Homo sapiens: one gene and its partner. The protein of the gene in region 2 purifies or fractionates together with the protein of the main gene of each other region. This does not show direct contact. Each region holds a gene or a part of one and is shown on either strand. Other genes may lie near its edges.

Region 1 (3,791 bases), on a different chromosome or scaffold from region 2:
GGTGCACGCCTGTACTCCCAGATATTGGGAGGCTGAGGCAGAAGAGTTGCTTGAACCTGGGAGGCTGAGACTGCACTGAGCCGAGATGGCGCCACTGCACTTCAGCCCGCGAGTTCAAGATGGAAGGTACCAGGAGGCGCCCCAGGTAGGCAGCACAGGCGCCTGGAGGCTGCACCTCACAGGCTCGCATGGGGAGTCTGAAGATGCTCCAAGCCCAGATCACCCCACAGGAGGTGACAGCAGGTTGGGCCTGTGGAGGAGGCTCTACCTTGAGGGGCCACATTGGCTTCCACACCCCTTCACTGTCTGGGCAAGCTGGCAAAGGGCCCTGAAACCTGCCGACTGGCATCTCTACCTGCCACACTGTGGGCCAGGGTGCTAAGTTCACGGCAGCGTCAGCTGCTGTGCACCCAGGCACAGTGCGGAGCCCGGCCGGACTCACTCTTTTCCTAACCACCAAGCCTCCTAGGGGCCCAGTGGCCTCATCCTCAACCCCTTGCACCATCTCCTCTCACTGAGGGCTATAGATGCCCCAGCTAACCTGTCCCCATCCCTGCCCCACAACTGTCCACAAAGCCAGGCCATGCCCTCCTCAGCCTCCAGGGCCCCAGAACCTGCCTCATTACCTTCAAGCCCTCCAGCACCGGGGCAGTGTCCTTCAAGGTCTCTGACTGCAGGACTGTGTCAGGCATTTCTGGCTGTGGCTCGGTCCCCGGCCTTTGGGGAGCAGCTACCACACGTTCGGGCTCAAAATCCTTCTGAAAGGCAAGGCGACACCAGCCCAGCGCCCGCCATCACACAGAAGCAGTCTTCTTGCTCCCCGAAGCTCAGAACATATGGCAGAGGCCACACTGGGAGCAGGCCTGCAGGTGACATTGGGCAGCACACCTGCCACAGAAGGTCCCTAGGGAGGCTCCATGCAGCTGCCAGGTCACCTGGGGCCCTCTCCAGAACAGGCTAGAGCACCTTATCCATCTCTGGTCTCCCCAAGACTCCCCCAAGCTGCCCTGTCACTTGCAGAGCAGGAGGCTGAGCCTGTGGGTGGGCACCATGCATGTGACCCAAGAGGACCACAGGGCCCGCGTTGAAGAGGAGCCCAGAGGCTGGGGGAGCCTGCAGCTCCTCTGCCAGCGCCCCTCACAGCAAGTCCCTGAGGAGAGGGTGGGCACTGCCATATGCTAAGCTTGCCCCTCTGAGACGGCTAAGGTATATCTCCCATGAGCACCACTGTGGCCATCGGGGAGTCCCCATGTCAGAGTTGCAGCCCTCACACCCGGGCACCCTGCCTCCCTGACCACTCCAGGAGGAAATAAACATGCAGGACAGAGCTGCAGGGCAAGCATGCGGGAGGCCAAGACTGTGGGCGTGCGGGGGTTTCTAGGGAGGCTGGCTCAGGACAGCCCCACGCGGCACGGAGCAGGACCACCGCTTACCGCCACCTCCGAGCGCTTCTGCAGCTCCTTCTCACGGTGCTCCTGCTGGATGGCCGCCTCCTCCTGCAGCGTGGCCTCCAGCTTGGCCTTGTTGTCCACCTGCTCGCCCTCCACCTCGGCCACTTTCACCTGTGCTTCCTTTGCCTTCAGAAGAGGGTACATCTGTGGGTGAGCCCAGAAGCCACCAGAGGCCCCTGCTGCCCCTCACCTCTGTCCTGTGTCCTGTGTCCCCTGCCCCGTCACCACCTGGGCTTCACACACACAGGACAGAAGGCACTGCCGAGGTGCTGCCCGCAATTGCTGGGAGGCCCCTGGGCCGCCCTCTGCGCTCGCCCGATGACTCCTGACATGTGGGAAGGAGCATAGGCGCTGCTGACACAGCTCCAAGGGCCGCGGCCCAGATCCACAGCAGCCAACACGTGGCCAGGTCGGGACCACTGGCAACTGTGCCACACGGGGGATGGCAGGCAAGGGGCTGGTGAGGAGGGATGGAAGGAAGGGGACAGGTGGCTGGGTGGGGGCACTCGCGAGGGGGTGGGAGGCAGGCTCCTCGCCCATGGTTGAGGAATGAGTGCGCTTGCACACCTCCCCCCACCCCAGAAGAGCGGAGCCACCTATGAAGAGATGAGGTAAAAGGGGTCTCCGACAGCACGTACCACAATCTCTGGGAGGGTCTGCAGTGTGGACTTGAGCTGGTCGGCTGGAGAGAGGGTGTCCGGGAGGTACATGGCCCGGGACAGGATGAGCAGCGATGTGGGGATCTCCTGATGCAGGTGCAGGTCCAGCCACTGCAACCAAGGCCAGGTTCAGCAGATGGGCAGCCCCCCAACCCTGCTGGCCCCACAGCAGGTCCGCCCATCTCATCACCAGAATAGCTCTCAGAGAAGACAGTGTCTCAAGTTCTACAAGGTCTGTTTGTTGCTGTGCTGCGTGACCCGATGACGGCGTTAGTAAACAAAACACCAGAGAGGCTTGGGGGTCAGCAACCCCCACAGCGAGGACCCCAAGGGCCTCAGAACAGGGCACCAACTCTTCACTTAAAAACACCCCAGGGGCCGGGCGCGGTGGCTCACGCCTGTAATCCCAGCACTTTGGGAGGCCGAGGTGGGCGGATCACCTGAGGTCAGAAGTTCGAGACCAGCCTGGCCAACATGGCGATCCCATCTCTACTAAAAATACAAAAATTAGCCAGGTATAGTGGTGTGCACCTGTAGTCCCAGCTACTTGGGTGGCTGAGGCACAAGAATTGCTTGAACCAGGGAGGCGGAGGTTGTTTCAAGCCGAAATCGCGCCACTGCACTCCAGCCTGTGTGACAGAGCAAGACTCTGTCTCAAACAAAGAAACAAGACCAGCCCAGGTCAACATATACGGGCCCGCAGAGGCAGTGTCACTGAGGCCGGTCAGCACTCGGGCCCTTGCAGGCTCTGCACAGGCCAGGTTCCGGGGCTGGCTGCTTGAGTAACACCAAGACAATCTCCAAATGGGCAAGAAAGACCGTGACAATGTTTAGAGACAAACTGAACACGGGGCAAAACATGAGAACAAACCCTAAGAGAAGAAAGGCAACGCTGAGGAGAAGTGGGTAGAGAAAATATGAGAACAAACCCTAAGAGAAGAAAGGCACCACCGAGAGGTGGGTAGAGAAGGAAAAGTGTGAACACATGACACTCGGGCCCCCAATGCGCCACACTCCCCTGGGGGCCGAGGGGCCTGGGCAGGGACAGCACCTGCCCCCCTGCTCAGACACCCCTGTGTGTGTGGCCCATATCCCCACGGAGCTCCAGAAGGCTGGGCAGAGTGCTAGGGAGGTCAGCACCCATGCCAGACACAGAGAAGGCTCTGCTGGGGAATCCGATGGAAGACGCGGCTGTGGAAGGCAGGGGGTGCCACAGGATCACGCCATAAATACTGTCTGTGTCGAGAGGAGAAGTGTGTACACACACCTTCATCTACACTTGCAGGTTGTGTGAAAAACCCGGGAGGAGGATGACTGCCAACAAGGGCATGCCAGTGCCAGGGCACCGGGAGGAAACCGGCTGGAGCCCTGCACCCCTTAACCTTTCCATGTAAGAGTGAGTGGCTGGGGCTGTCACTTTCCGACCTACAAGCCACTCAATTTGATGGCATTGGGAACCAGGCACCAGCACAGGGCGTGGCCAAGAGAAGGGGCGGCTCCAAAGTCAGACCGTGCCATGCCACCCAAACCTTCCATGGCCCCAGTTCAGAAAGAGTCAAAATGTGAACACGTCCGACATCTCAGAGGTGAACTCCAGTCCTCATCTGACTACAGATAACCAAAATAGTAAGTTATTAAGGTCTTTAAAATCAACTAAAAGCAAACAAGAAAAATCAAAGCA
Region 2 (3,791 bases):
TTTTATTATTATTTTTTGAGACGGAGTCTCGCTGTGTCGTCCCAGCTGGAGTGCAGTGGTGTGACCTGGGCCCACTGCAACCTCCGCCTCCCAGGTTCAAGCAATTCTGCTGCCACCGCCTCCCGAGTAGCTGGGATTACAGGTTTCCGCCGCCACACCCGGCTAATTTTTGTGTTTTTAGTAGAGACGGGGTTTCACCATGTTGGCCAGGCTGGTCTTGAACTCCACCTCAAGCTCCCAAAGTGCTGGGATTACAGGAGTGAGCCACCGTTCCTGGCCGTAAAGACTCTTTTAAACATGGATGACTGTTTTGATAAAATGACATGGCTTGTTCATGTCGATACCATTTGCTTAGAAGGGAAAGATCAAGGGAAAAATGGGGTTGGATTTCAAATGATTTGGTTTGATCGATGATTTGTTATTCTCTAAAGTTGTAACTCTGGAAAAGGTAATGAGTTTGACTTATTCTTTAACTTTTCCTCTTTAGACAGTTCAAATATTTGAATTCTACATGCTAGGACTTGTTTTCTTTATACTTACCAAGAAACATCCTTATGCAGTTTCTCTAATGTTTGAGAAACTAAGTTGTTTTTTACACACGTGCATGCTAGTTCCTGAAGAGTCCTGTACAGGTGCTCTGCTGGCTTTTCCTTTCAGGTTTCTGTATCAGCTGTATTTCTCCCTGTAGAATGTGCCCCTGACCTCCACCCCTTAACCTTACCCCATTTGTCTTTATATGCCTGACCATCCGTCAAGGCTCTTCTGGGTCATATTTAGTTCATGCTGTTATTTCCCCTTCCTCCCTTCTTTAGTCCTTACTATTTTTGCTTTGGTCATGTTTTCTTATGCTGTATTCTGTAAGCCTTTAAATTTTTCTTTTTATGGTGGCAGGGGAGAATATTTTATAATTATGCTTTGTGCTTTTTATCTTCCACTCAATAAATGCTTCATAAATATTTGAGTATATAGCGCTATTCTAGCTGTATTGTATTTGAACAAAAATCTTAACTGCCTTGTAAGTTAACTGCTAAGAATTTGTCAAAAGTGCAGAGATAACATCAATAACTTGTCATGGATAGTACAAAAAGGTCTCTAAGGGCTTGATGGAAGTCTGTAAATTGACTTCATATGAGAGTGTAAGAAGTGAAAAAGACCAAAACAGAGTAGATGTTTTACTCTGTAGGCCAAGGGAATTGAGCTAATTCTTTTCCTGTTTTATAAATTTGTCCTGATCTTAAATAATGAAGGGAAAAGAGTGCTCTTTTTCAACCTCGAGTCCTTTTTATTCTTTTCTGTGAAGCCATGATATGAAAGATTGCCTGTTATACAAACTTAAGTATAGTTTTTCCATCTTCAGTAAACTAACCTGATTGCCGTCTAATTAGTTGTTACAATCACACCGAAATGCAAAGCAGCTTGTTTTAAGCAGCCTTATTGGGAGCTAGTATATGGCTTTAGTCGTTTTGAAGTATTTAACATAACTTGGCAACTCCATTACTCCTTTTATGGACTTTTTGGCATCTGGGCATTCTTGGTAGGAAATCACTGTTTTAGAATGAAAAATCTCCCCCAGGAAGTAAATTAGCTAGTAAACAAATGAAACTTCATTTTTTATATTACTTGTAGAGCATAAATGATTACCCTTTCTGCGTATAAGTGGCTGTTTGCTAGGCTGCTTTTAGTGGGACTTTGTTTTTGATTGGTTAATTAAATTTCTATTCATTATTGCCAAAAAGTGCCTACCCCCAACAGCAAGATACTAAATTTTAAAAATGTTGGAGCTGTGAATCTAGGAGGAAGTGAGAAGTTTAGCTTTTATTTAGTAGTTAGGAGCTTAAGTAAGTCACTTCTTTTACTGTGTTTCTGTGTACTATAGATAATATTTTTTTGCACTGCAAGAGAGCATATAGAGGAAAGCTCTTTGGCAATGATATTATGTTCTACAAATATAAAAGCGATGGTGTCATTTGTGGCTGAATAACACTTTATTTTGAAAATGCTTTATAACAGGTTTTTGTGGGAAATAAAGCAATGCTGTTAACTTCATCTTGCATTTTTCTAGTCTTTACTATGATTAAAAAGTAGTCCAGTCAAAGTTGTACAAAGGAAATAAACCTGGACTAAGGAGCCTAAGACTTTTCTCTTTGGTTTGCCCTCCTGGGACAGATTACCTTTCCAAATTGAATTCATGGAAGAGCATTTGGAAATATCAGAACTGTCATGTTAAGCACCTAAGTGGTACTTTCATTCCAGAAGAATCATTGTTTTCGTTTATCTGACCAATTTATAATATAGGGTCAAATTCCTGGTGGTTATTTATGCTCCCTCATCCCCATTTTTATACCTGTCCTTGAAAGGAACAGATATATGAAGAGAAGACTTAGGTTTCCCTTTTGTGAATAGTATATCCCTTAGTATCTTGATTTTTTTTTTTTAATTTGGTTAAACATATTTAGACCTGGAAAAGGGTAGTATTTGATAAATGTCAGCTAGTTGAGGGGTGGGGAATTGAGTTGAATGGAGATAGTCACTGCCAAATGTCAAGCATGACTGGAGAGCCAGAGTGATAAAGCAGGGGTCCCTTTTTCCAGATCCTTTGTAACAGTGTTATGTGATCTCTTCTAGAAGATTCTGAAAGATAATCCCAACTTGGAACCTAGGAAACCACCCAGTGGGTTTCTGCAGCTTAGGTGGTTCAGATCCTCATCAGCACCTTTTTCTGTGCCTCAGTTTGCTTACAATGATGTTCTCAGTAGCTGTAATTTGCTGCTTGTGTTTGAATACTTAAGCATTTTCTTTTTATCATGGGTATATGAACATTTTTATTTCAACAAGTGTTAGAATTTTTACTCTGCTTTTGTGGGCTCTAGGTTAGCTACTTGGTTGTTTATTTGTAAAATGATTAGCAGGGAACCATGTGTATGCATTTTAAGTATCTTTTGTTGTCAGAGCAGTTAGAATTTTATTAAGGTACTATATGCTAATTCTGTCAATTTACTTCGTTCTCCACCCCACATTTATTGAACAGCAAACTATGAAAGTAATGTGTCCCATAACTGGCCTTCAGAAGAATTACAACTGCTGTTATCTCTGAACCTTCCAGAAGTTTGTGCATCAGTTTTAAAAAAATGATGAAATCCCTGAAGATAGCTGTGTCCTACATTTGGAAAGATACAAAAACTGACCATTCTGGTCAACCAGTTTTGGTTGCTGGTGCTTGAGATAGAGCCACACAATGGTCTCAGTGGATTTATGGAGAAAAATAGATACAGAAAGTTACTTCTAAATAAGACAAAAAAATCTTTTTCTTGAGCAGTGACAGGTAAAGAGGTTGGTTTGGTTAATCTTGAGTTGTGTTTCCCTCCATTAAGACAGTTTTATGGTGGGGATGGTAGTGGTGATGAACTTGTTTGAAATTTGTCCACTTACAGTAATGTTTATGGTAGCTTCACAGACAACTTCATTCTCACAGGCCTTAGAATTACTATAAAACTAATAGAATGGATGAGGAACAAAGGACCTGAGTAATTAGATGCTTAGATAATTGTTCTGTGTTTTCATAACTGTGGTGAAAAAGAGTGGTGCTAGAAGCACTTAAACATTCTATGTACGGGAAAACTGCCTGAATTTGTATTGGGATTTTTGAGCACCATTCACTGTTTAAAAACTGATATACCATAGGTCATATTTATTTTAAAGAGAAATAGTAGGCAAACTTATCTTTTCAAGATAGATATAAAGCTTAGTTAACCTTATCAAAATTACAAAACTTAAAGCATGTGAAAGATTGA

What was found.
Region 1: the proteins of UBE2Q2 (region 2) and LETM1 purify together in Homo sapiens (affinity purification with mass spectrometry; one large-scale study listed by BioGRID and IntAct). This does not show direct contact.

The regions. Positions count from the first base shown.
Region 1 is NC_000004.12:1,821,555-1,825,345, forward strand, and holds part of LETM1 (mitochondrial proton/calcium exchanger protein precursor), read right to left. Parts: intron 2,222-3,791; coding exon 2,090-2,221; intron 1,578-2,089; coding exon 1,434-1,577; intron 759-1,433; coding exon 627-758; intron 1-626. UniProt on the Homo sapiens protein: Plays an important role in maintenance of mitochondrial morphology and in mediating either calcium or potassium/proton antiport. Mediates proton-dependent calcium efflux from mitochondrion.
Region 2 is NC_000015.10:75,846,239-75,850,029, forward strand, and holds part of UBE2Q2 (ubiquitin-conjugating enzyme E2 Q2), read left to right. Parts: intron 1-3,791.